2 separate regions of the Homo sapiens genome follow, and region 2 is reported to be linked to region 1. Evidence: microRNA targets listed by miRTarBase, many of them from high-throughput screens and not tested one by one. Region 1 holds a microRNA gene; the other region holds the end of a gene's coding sequence.

The links. The annotated mature microRNA hsa-miR-6782-3p reads CACCUUUGUGUCCCCAUCCUGCA and lies in region 1 at 5,640-5,662, opposite strand. An mRNA with a match to its seed (bases 2 to 7 or 8) in the 3' UTR can be bound and repressed. Matches are read on the target gene's strand: a 7mer-m8 pairs with bases 2 to 8, a 7mer-A1 pairs with bases 2 to 7 and ends in A, and an 8mer does both.
Region 2: miRTarBase lists PAN2 as a target of hsa-miR-6782-3p. Seed matches in the 3' UTR shown: 7mer-m8 at 2,618-2,624.

What each region holds. Positions count from the first base shown.
Region 1 is chr17:44,202,133-44,209,784 of GRCh38, forward strand. MIR6782 (microRNA 6782) reads right to left here and starts at 5,707; the gene lies at 5,639-5,707. UBTF (upstream binding transcription factor) reads right to left here. Exons shown (of 21, transcript NM_014233.4): 16 at 7,513-7,601; 17 at 7,220-7,409; 18 at 5,732-5,779; 19 at 5,567-5,638; 20 at 5,322-5,465; 21 at 2,908-5,235. The coding sequence ends at 5,110. All of the region lies in intron 1 of ATXN7L3-AS1 (ATXN7L3 antisense RNA 1), which reads left to right. RefSeq lists enhancers at 4,831-5,331, 5,973-7,172.
Region 2 is chr12:56,314,814-56,317,813 of GRCh38, forward strand. PAN2 (poly(A) specific ribonuclease subunit PAN2) reads right to left here. Exons shown (of 26, transcript NM_014871.6): 26 at 2,123-2,830. The coding sequence ends at 2,796. CNPY2 (canopy FGF signaling regulator 2) reads right to left here and starts at 1,175. Exons shown (of 6, transcript NM_014255.7): 1 at 1,008-1,175; 2 at 317-429; 3 at 38-153. The coding sequence starts at 404. RefSeq lists enhancers at 1,160-1,748, 1,249-1,298, 1,379-1,528.

The sequences.
Region 1 (7,652 bases):
TTTGTTTTGTTTTGTTTTTTTAGACAGCATTTTGCTCTGTCACTCAGGTGCAATCTCAGCTCACGGCAACTTCTGCGTCCCGGGTTCAAGTGATTCTCATGCCTCAGCCTCCTGAATAGCTGGGATTACTGGCGCACGCCACCACGCTCGGCTAATTTTAGTTTTGTATTTTTAGTACAGACAGGGTTGCACCATGTTGGCCAGGCTGGTCTCGAACTTCTGACCTCAGGAGATCCGCCTGCCTCAGCCTCCCAAATGCTGGGATTACAGGCATAAACCACTGGGCCTGGCAAAAGCAGTAGGTTTTTGTTACTGATTGAGGTGTGTGGAGGAAAGGAGAGGGAGGTCTTGAAAACACCTTTACTAGGATGGGGAACTCAGGGGAGGACATGGGAGGACACAGGATGACTTCAGTCTGGGATATATTGAGGTTACTGTGGGATCAGCTGATGGAGACCCAAAAGGTGGTTGAACTCAGGTCTGGCACAGAGAAGTAAGCTAGGTCTTCAGGAACTTCAACAACATCGCCTCAACCTTTGTTTTCTCTTATCTCCCGCCTCCTTTTCAGGAATTCTTCACTCCAGTGATGCTGATCTGTTTCTTACCTAAATATGCCCAGTACATTCTGCCCTAAGGAATTTGCGCCATGGCCAGAAAATCCTCCTGGCTTCTCCCTGTTTACCTAAATCCTTCCTCATATCCCCACCCATGGCCATCCTCATACCAAACTTCTTTACAACTAGACTGTACTATTCATTCTGTGCTTGGCCTGGGCTGCTCTGTGGTGGTGACCTCTTTGGGCACGTGCCCAGTCTCCACAGTTAGCACCAGTTCATAAACACTAAGGCCTGAGCTGGTCCTGACTCTGGGTGAGGCCCTGGGGTTACAGCAACAAGCAAGAGAGACACACAAACCTTGTCCTAGCGCAGCTTACAGCCTAGCAAGGCCTGATGTGAAGGAAATAAGGCCTGAGTGTGAAGGCATTCAGGCTGCTGAAGAAACGTATAGTGTGGAGACCTTTTTTCTCAGGAGTTCAGGGAAGGAAGTGGTCTTTTAAGTGGAGACCAGAATTAACTAGGCAGAGAGAACACCATGTGTATAGGCCCTAGGAGAGAGCATGTTATGTTCGAGACATGAATGGTCAGTGTGGCTAGAGTCGGGGGAGGGCTAACGGGGGCAGCAGATCCCCAAGGGCCTTGTGGGCCAGACCTATTCACCCACTCAGCAAATCTTTCTTGATTGTCAAATGTATATCAGGCAGTTTCAGGTGCTGAGATTACTGTAATGAACAAGCAGATAAGGTGTCTTCTACTTGGGGAGATAGATAATAAACAAATACATAAACAAGAAGATGGAGGAGGCCTCTCTAGAGCAGGTGGTTGGGAAAGGCTTCTCTGTGAGAGGACATGTGAGTTGAGGCTTAAAGAATGAAAAAAAAAAATCAGGTATGTGTAGAGTTGGAGGAATAGCCATTCTAGGCAGAGAGAACAGGTGCCAAGACCCCGCAGGTAGGCATGTTTGAGGAACAGAAGAGATCACTTGGTTGGATCGTTGTAAGTGGTTAGGAAGAGCAGGGTGAGAGAAGATAAGAGAAGGAATGCGGGGGCCAAGCCTTGTAGGGCCATGGTAAGACATGGTAAATTTTCAGTACAGAAATAATCAGATTTATTTCTGAGATAATTTTGGCTGCCATGTGAAGAATGGGCTGTAGGGGGCGAGAGTGGAAGCAGGAAGACCAGCTTTAGGAGGTCTTTGCAGAAGTTGAGCAATGATGGTGGCCTGAAATAGGATGGGAGTGGCAGCTGTGGGAGCCACCCTGTGGGAGGGGTCGACAGATTTGAGACAGCTTTAGGAAGTGGAATGGAGAGGTCTAGGTGATTGAACCTCGAGGTGAAAGGGAGAGAGGAGTCAAGGCCAATACTCTGCTTTCTAGGTTGAACGACTAAGTGTTTGGTAATCATTTCGGGTCTTGAGGTATGAGATGTCTGCAAGATATCCCAGGGGATGCAAGGGTGTCTACACAGGTCTGCAGCTTGGAAGAGCAGTCTCTGTCGGCACCACCTTTCGGAATGGTTGCATATGCGTGATAATGGGAGGTTGAAGGGAGAGACATGAACACCTGGGATAAAATGAGGAAGAGCTGACACCAACAGAGTAGACCAAGAAGGCAAAAGACAAGACAAGTGTTCACCAGATGTAATGAACATGTTGGTGACCTTAGCAAGGAACCTCAAAGGATGGTGGTAAGTGGGAGGCCAAGAGGCACAACAAGCTTTTTAGCAGTTTGGCCACTATAGGATAGGGGCAAGGGCTGGGAGAGAGTTCTCCGACAGGACCTGGGTCTGCAGCCCTTTGAGGTTCCAGGAACCCAGCCAAGGCCTGCGCAGGAAAGGGTGTCTTCCCTTAATCTCAGAGAGTGAGTCATCTCAGCCCAGCCCAGCCTGCTTCCCATCAGAGGCCTAGATGGTCCTAGGAAAGTCATCCTTAACCCTTAACCTTTAACCTGGGATGGAGCTGAAGGCTCAAAGTGAGAGCGTGCTCCCTCAACTCCCCACGATAAGCCCTACACTAGGAAGGCTTGCATGCCCAGGGCGAACCCTTGACCCTAGTAGCTCATCACCTCCAATTCCCCAAGACCATGTACTTTGGGTGAAAATGCATTTGTTCTCCAACTTCTCAGAATCTTTAGTGGTCTCACAACCCAAGGTGAACAAATGGAATTGAGAAAAGGGCAAGAACAGTAGCACAGAACAATGTGAAGGTAGGTTGCCTATGGAATCTTTAGGGAAGAGGAAGATAGTTCTAGGAAGAAAAGGCAAATTGGCTTCAAGCATTTTTATAGATCAAACCTGTTGGGTCACCCCTGTGAACCTTCATTGATTCCAGTGACCAGACAGCAGTCAAACCTTTGTTTTTCACTTTATTATACAAAAAAGGGAAAACAAAACTTCCACAGTTGGCTTTAAGCATAGGCAGACACCTCTAAGCCACTCCCTCCCACCTCCCATGATACAAATTCAAGTTGTGGTGGTTGTTGAATCCTACAAAACACTCCTTAAATATTAGAAAAGAAGTTGGGGGTGGGGATGGGGGTCTTCCCACCCCAGCCATCCCATCCCAGTGCCAAAATGCACTCAAGAGTGACCTCTTACAGCACCAACACCCCCACCCTGACAGTCCTGTTTGTACTGTAAGAATTTTTCAATTTTTAAAACAGGAAAGAAAAAGTGCCCCATTCAAAGTTGTTTTTAAATGAAAATACATTCCACTGAAACACAACAGTGTAGGGGCATCCAAATAGGAAACTGGGGTTCTTTGCAGGGCTCTTGGGAAGAAATAGAACCTATAAACCCCTGTACTTAATTCCAGGATTAGGACAAAGGAAGGGGAATGGGAGTGGGGAGTGTCCCCCCCAGGCCTCCCCACCCCCAGCACCAAGGTCCAAGGCAAAGCAGAGACTGTCTGCCTTCCTTTGGGAGAGGGACCCACCAGCCTCTCTGGGACCAGGGCCCTTCACCGTTCTTGCTCCACCTCCGCGGCAGAGTTCCCGCTCTTCCCCCATTCCTTGGCTTTCATTCAGAGGGGGAAGGTGGAAAAGCACCAAGCCCCAATTTAATAGGTCAGTGACATGACCATAAAAAAGAACCCCCCAAATTTAGTCAACAAAAAAATAAGAACTACAGAGATAAGGTGGCTTGGCTTATTAAGAGTCAAGGAATCAAGGTACCAAAAAATACGGGAGATGGCTGGGAAGAGTTAGAGACAGCTGCAGATGCAGCTTTTGCAGACTTCTTGCCCAGCTGTGGGGTTGGGGGAGGAGGGAGCAGACCTGAGAAATTAAAGGAAATAGGGGGTGGTGGGAGGATTCAAGGAAGGCTGGAGGGATGTGTAAGTTAGGAGCTCCCAGCACATTTCTTGAAGCCCAGGTTCTGAGCCTGGGGTGGCCAGGCTTGGCCTCTCAGATGAACAGGGGAGACCTTTTCCATCAAATACAAGCTTTAAGCTTCACACCATCTTGCCTGCCTTTCCGCCTTCCTGCTGGACAATGGAGACCAGCAGCTCGGATGCATGTGACTCTGGCAGAGGGAGCCTGGTCTGGGAAGCATCCGAGAATGGCTTCAGCACACTCCCCCTAATGGAATCAGAGACTGGGCAAAACAGAGGATGTGGAGAACGGGGCAGCCTCAGCCTGCTCCCACCAGGGTCAACATCTCCCGGCCCTCACCGACCCTTTTTCCAGATTCACAACAAACTGATGTGGGCTCTAGGACAGACCCCTTTACACACACACACACACACTCACACTCTTTTGCACACATCCACAGCTGCACCCATGCTATGTACAGGAACACACATACACATACTCTCTTCCACATACATCAAGACCATTTTTAAAAGGTTCCAAATCTACCCCTAAACCCTCCCTCTCCCAGAAATGACAACAGAGACGGCAGCCGAGATCGGTAGGAAACGTCTCGTTGACAGCTCAGAGCTTAAAAAAAAATATATACACATATATAAAAAACACTTCTGCCCCCTCCCCCATGAACGGGTCCAGGCAGCTCCTTCCTGCAGGGGGCAGGGGAGAGGGCCACCAGGGCAGTGCCTGTTTTCTTGAAGGCACCGACCCTCCTCCTCCCCATGTTCCCTGCCTCCAGTTCCAATGCAGGGGTCCAGGTGGCAGGCCCCTCTGGGAAGGAATGGGTCTTCCCCAAGCTTCCACCCCACCTTGGATTGGGCCGCAGGTGTGGAGGGCCTCATCAAACTCTTTGGGACCCCCCACCCCCACTCTCCGGTCCATTGTCCATGCCGGAACCGCAAGTGCAGAAGTGGGTGGGGTGGGCCAGGCTGGTCCGGTGCTGGCTTAGTCTGATAGTTGCTGTCCCTGGAGGAGGACCCCCAAGGGCTGATGTCTCTGAGGCTGCAGAGTCCTGGCCTGGGCTCCTCCAGCCCCCTACCCCCACCGTATTTTTTTTTTTTTTTAAAGAAAGAAAGAAAGTGGGGGAGGCCAGGGGGGCAAGGGACAGAACATGGGGGAGAAACAAAGGTGGTCAGTTGGGGAGGGGAGCTCCTGGGCTCTCCCTGGCTGCCCTGGGGTGGGGCTGAGCCTCAGTTGGAGTCAGAGTCTGAGGAGTCCCCTGAGGAGGAGGAGCTGGAGCTGCTGCCCTCGGACTCATTATCTTCATCCTCATCGTCATCCTCGTCGTCGTCTTCGTCCTCGTCATCCTCTTCATTCTGGGGGGTGAGAAAGGATGTGGAGTCACCAGGTGGCCCTCCTGGCAGGACTCCCCTCCCCTCCCACTGTGCCCTGTCTGCCCCACCTCATCCCCATCCTCGCTCTCGTCCTCGCTGCTGGACTCAGAGGAGTCGCCGCCATCTTCAGAGGAGTCCCCATTCTCATCATCTTCCTCTTCTTCATCCTCGTCCTCGTCATCCTCATCCTCTTCATCATCCTCCTCGGACTCCTTGGAGGGATGGAGGCACATCAGTGGTCTCTGGTCTCTGCCCAACCATTCCAGGCAGTGCCCCCCGCCCCACGCCCCTGCATCTGGGAGGGGCTCCTTACCGACTTGGACTGCAGAGTAGTCCGGCTGGATTTGGGGTTTGGGCCTCGCAGCTTGGTCATGCTCTTACGTTTCTGCAGGATGGGGACACAAAGGTGGCAGCCATGAGTTCGACACCCCTGAATTCCCCCACCCCTACCCCACTGCTGCTCTGCTCCCAGACTCACATTGGAGATGTACTCTTTATATGCTGCACGGTCCTGGGGAGACAGGCTCTGGGGGAGACAGAAGCGGCAAGGGTTGGAACATAGCCAACTACTGCTGACTGAGCATGCTGGCCCAGTGCTAGGCAGTGGGCTGAGCATTTATATATCATCACCCCATCTTACCCCTCCCAGGCTCCCTAGATTTTGGGTCTCTGCAGAGAGCCCCTGGGATCTGAGAACACAGCTCTAATTTTTTTTTTTTTTTTTTTTTTTTTTTTGAAACAGGGTCTTGCTCTGTCACCCAGGCTGGAGTGCAGTGGCACAATCTCAGCTCACTGCAGCCTTGACCTTCCCAGGCTCAAGTGATCCTTCCAACTCAGCCTCCAGAGTAGCTGGGACTACAGGCATGTGCCACCACACCATGCTACCTTATAATTTTTTGTAGAGACAGCAATCTCACTATGTTGCCCAGGATGGTCTTGAACTCCTGGCCTCAAGTGATCCTTCATACCTTGGGCTCCCAAAGTGCTAGGATTACAGGCGTGAGCCACTGCGCTGGCCCAAACCCTAGTATTTCTGCTTCTGATACCCAGAGTCCTTCTCTAAACCACTAAGACTATTGGTTTTCACATTTTCCCTGTTGCTTTTCGCAAATGGAAGCTCCTATCAGAGTCTTCCTCACTCCAAAGAAGTGCCCCCGTGATGAGTCAGCCTGGCATCATCAACCACACCCCAACACCAAACCCTTGAGCCATCGATGAGGCAGTGGGGCTCACCAAACTCCTGAAACAGCAAATCCCCACAGTCTTCCTGGGTCCTTGGCCAACCTGCCTTGGTGAGTGGGAAGGACACAGGTGATTCTCTCCACTTTACAGATCTGACTACTCAACCAAAGCACAGAGGGGAAGCACAAAGGCCAGGAGTCTAGGAGAGGTCCCGTGGTCCCAGATGGGGGAGGAAAAGGCAGTCTGATTTGGATTCTTCTACTTACTGTGTGACCTTGGGCAAGTTACTTAACCTCTCTGAGCCTTGGTTTCCTTATTTTTAAAAGGGTGATAGTGGCTGCGGACGGTGGCTCAAGCCTGTAGTCCCAGTGCTTTGGGAGGCCGAGGTGGGCGGATCACATGAGGTCAGGAGTTCGAGACCAGCCTGCCCATCTCTACTAAAAATACAAAAATTAGCCAGGTGTGGTGGTACATGTCTGTAGCCCCAGCTACTCTGGAGGCTGTGGAAGGAGAATCGCTTGAACCTGGGAGGTGGAGGTTGCAGTGAGCCGAGACTACACCACTGTACTCCAGCCTGGGCAGGAGAGCAAGACTGTCTCAAAAAATAAAAAAAAAAATAAAAATAAAAGGGTGATAGTGACCGTTATCCTGAAGGATTGCGAGGGCATGGAATGAAATCATGAATGAGACCAGCCAGCACAAGTGGGTGGATGGGCCAGGCTAGGATGGTGCTGGCTTAGTCTGATGCCTCTCTGTTCCTTCCAAGGGTCCCTTGCCCTCTCACCTTAACCCAGAGGTCCAGGTGCACCTTGTACTGCTTTTGCTGCTCCTCGGCCAGCTTTTTGTAGTGCTCCTTCTGGCTCTGGGAGATGCGCTGCCAGCGACTGCCGATCTCCACCATGCGCTCCTTCAGCGGCAGGTGGTTCAGCTCCCCATTGGACAGCAGCTCCTGGGAGAACTTCTGGTAACCGTTCCTGGGAGGTGGGTTGGTAGAAGGAGGGTCAGGACCCCAACAAAGCAGCCATCCAGCCCTGACCCTCCCCGACCTCCAGGGCAGACTCCAACCCCCAGGCTCACATGGGAGGCTTCTTGGGTTCTCCCTGGAATTTCATCTTCTTGGAAGAATTTGTAGCAGCTGGAGGTGCCCGCATCTCACTCAGCTCTCTCTGGAGGGAGAAAGGTCACGCTCACCCCCCAGTCCCACCCCCAAAATACTG
Region 2 (3,000 bases), not on the chromosome of region 1:
AGTGAGCTACTTTGTTTGGGGGAACAGTAACAGTTACCTCCACCACTGACTGGCTGCCATCTGGATTGATCCGGAAAGATCCCATCTGAATGGTCTTCTTGGGGTCCACCTGGGCAATTTCCCATTCTAGTTCATCCACCAGAGCCCTGCATGCTGGTGGAAGAGGAGAGAATGAGAGCAGGGGACAGGGTAGGGGGTAGGGTGTGAGGAGAATGGGATCAACCCAGGATTTCCATTCATCCTTCTCCCAGGCCTTGGATCTCATGCCCTCCCAAGGCTCTGCTTCCTCCACTTCTTTTTCCCGTTGTGCCTTTACCTCCACAGTGGAGATCCTGGCTCCTCCGAGCCCAGGCGGTTCCCAGCAGGGCCCCCAGAAGCAGGGCCAGCCAACCCCAGCCTTTCATCTTTAGCGTAATGGGGTCGCTCCACCTGGGTTTGAGTGGGAATAAAACATAAGTGTGAGGAGCCGACTCCATTTTTCCCTGACCCCCCCAATCCTCACCCCAAGGCTTTCAAAGGCCTCATTGTGACTCTGGCTCTACTTTCCAGGAAATGGCCGGGACACAAAGGGGCTTCTCTGTTCCAGCGCTTGAGGGCTCTGATTCCCCCAGGGTGGTGGGTGGGAGCGCGAGCTCAGGACTTGCGGCTCAGCCCCAGACTCTACGTGGATAGGTGAGGCCCTAAGTGTTGGTACTTTAGCACTGCATGCCTAGGGTTCACGGGGCTTTGTGGCAGCTACAGGAGGTAAGTTGGCGATTACGTGAGGACTACAGGCACTAGGGAACTGCCGGCAGGGAGCCCTCAGTCAGGCCAGGAGGCCAGCGAGGAGAGCAATAACTAGGGCCCATTTGGATCCTGCACCGAAGATTCCTGCGTCCCCACCTCCAGCCCGTAAGTGATTACCCGTACGGACACCAGCCCCCTTTCTAAGGACTCCGCCATTGCTTTCGCTTCAGTCCATCCCCAACCCTCAGCGCCCAGCGCCTCGCCGCCCGCATCCGTCCCACCTCTGCTCCCAGGGCCGCCGCCGTGGCCCAAGCGCTGGAAGACCGCTGGACTCTCACTTTGGCCCCAGTGGCTCCCGAAACTACACCTGGCTGCAGGGAGCAGGGCTGTCCGGGATTCTCCAGAGCGCTTCGCCGCCTGCCACACACGGGGTGTCCCGGCGACCGCCTGACCCAGCTCCCCTGACGCTAACTGGTACCTAAGCGGGACTCCAGCGTGCTGCGGTGCGAGCCCCAATCAGACACCGACCCCAAACCCGCCCCTCCAAACTCTCGCGCGAACAGGCAGCTTAGGAGAGGCTCCCGAACAGCAAGGACCCCGGTCAATCGCCGAAGGACCCAGACTTGCGTGGCGAACAGATCCACGTGACCACCAGGGGTCAGCCGTAGAATAGGAGTGGCCTTAAGCGACGACAGAGTCCGGGCGTGCTGTATGGGAGCGGCTAGTCGTGCGCGTGAGCCAGCCCAGGTGGGCTAGGACCTTCAAAACGGTGCGCTGCCGGCCAGCGAGCAGTCCAGGTTTCAATACACAGGAAACTACATCTCCCAGGAAGCACCGCAGCACCGGACCCATCTTTGTGAGCAACTACAAGTCTCAAGCTATCCTGGGACCTGTAGTTTGTCGGCTTACACAATTAACGGAAACCATACTGTACATCTTCAGTCTGACTTAGGGTACTGGGCAGCTATAGCAAAGACCCAGCATTGCCCAGAAAAGGCATAAATTATACCTTTTTCCCCTTTTTTTGAGACGGAGTCTCGCCCTATCGCCCAGGCTGGCATACAGTGGCGTGATCTCGGCTCACTGCAACCTCCGCCTCCCGGGTTGAAGCAATTTTCTGCCTCAGCTAGGGTTACAGTCGCCATCCACCACTCCCAGCTAATTTTTGTATTTTTAGTAGAGACGGGGTTTCACCATCTTGGTCAGGCTGGTCTTTAACTCCTGACCTCGTGTTCCACCCACCTCTGCCTCCCAAAGTGCTAGGATTACAGAAGTGAGCCACCGCGCCCGGCCTAATTATACCCTTTCATATCCATAACTTTGGATTCCGGACCTTTACCTTCAAAGGAAGGAGAGGAAGACTGAAGCCAGAGAACCCACACTAGCAGTTCTCTAATGAGATAAATAACAAACGATATTTTATTTTTATTTTATAAAACATGCAGTTTACAACAAATTTTTAAAAAATGGAACAAAACTTGGGACAGGCAAGTGGGATGGAAGACAGATGCTTCTCAGCCATCAGCAGGAATAAATGAAGCCGGCAGCCAAGCTTTGTCCAGGATCCAAAGGCCCTTTTGGCAATGGTATTGGCAACACTGGTTTGCTTGGGCCACCAACACTCTACTTGCTGGCCCCTCCAGGTATCCCTGAAGCAGTTGGTGACTTGTGCTAAGTCTTGAACTACTGTGGTATCCTCTGTCACTGTCCAGGACTTCAATCCCTAGCCAGCTAGGAACTTACAGTTATGGTTCCAGGAGCTTCTCTGCCTGGATATTAGTCACCCAGGATATTAAGAATACCAATTACTTTCCATCTGGGTCAATTCTAGACTCCATGTCTGTACCACTGTTTTGCAAAGAATGAAGAAGGAATGAATCTGGCTCCTAGAACCTTTGCAACAATTCTGCTGTGTTCCAGTTCAATTAATAGCACCATCTGTGACCCTAGACCCTGAGCACGTCCAGTACTGGAAGTGGACAAGGTATAGCCAACTTAGGAAGCCATCTCCCAGTTCTGGGGCTATAGAACAGTAAAGGGAGAGGGCCGTGGTTCTTTGGGAAGGGTAGTCAGAGCGCCAGCACTGAGGAGAAGACAGCTGCATCTGTCAGAGACAAAACCAAAAGCATGATTCAAGCTGAGTGGAGAAAAAGCATCTTCTCATACTTCCTATGAAGGAAAAATGCAAGAGAAAAAAGGGCATGGACCTTCCCTGAACATTTTAGACTTGGGCAAGAGGAAGTTATAGTTAATGGAGAGTTTCGATAAAATGTA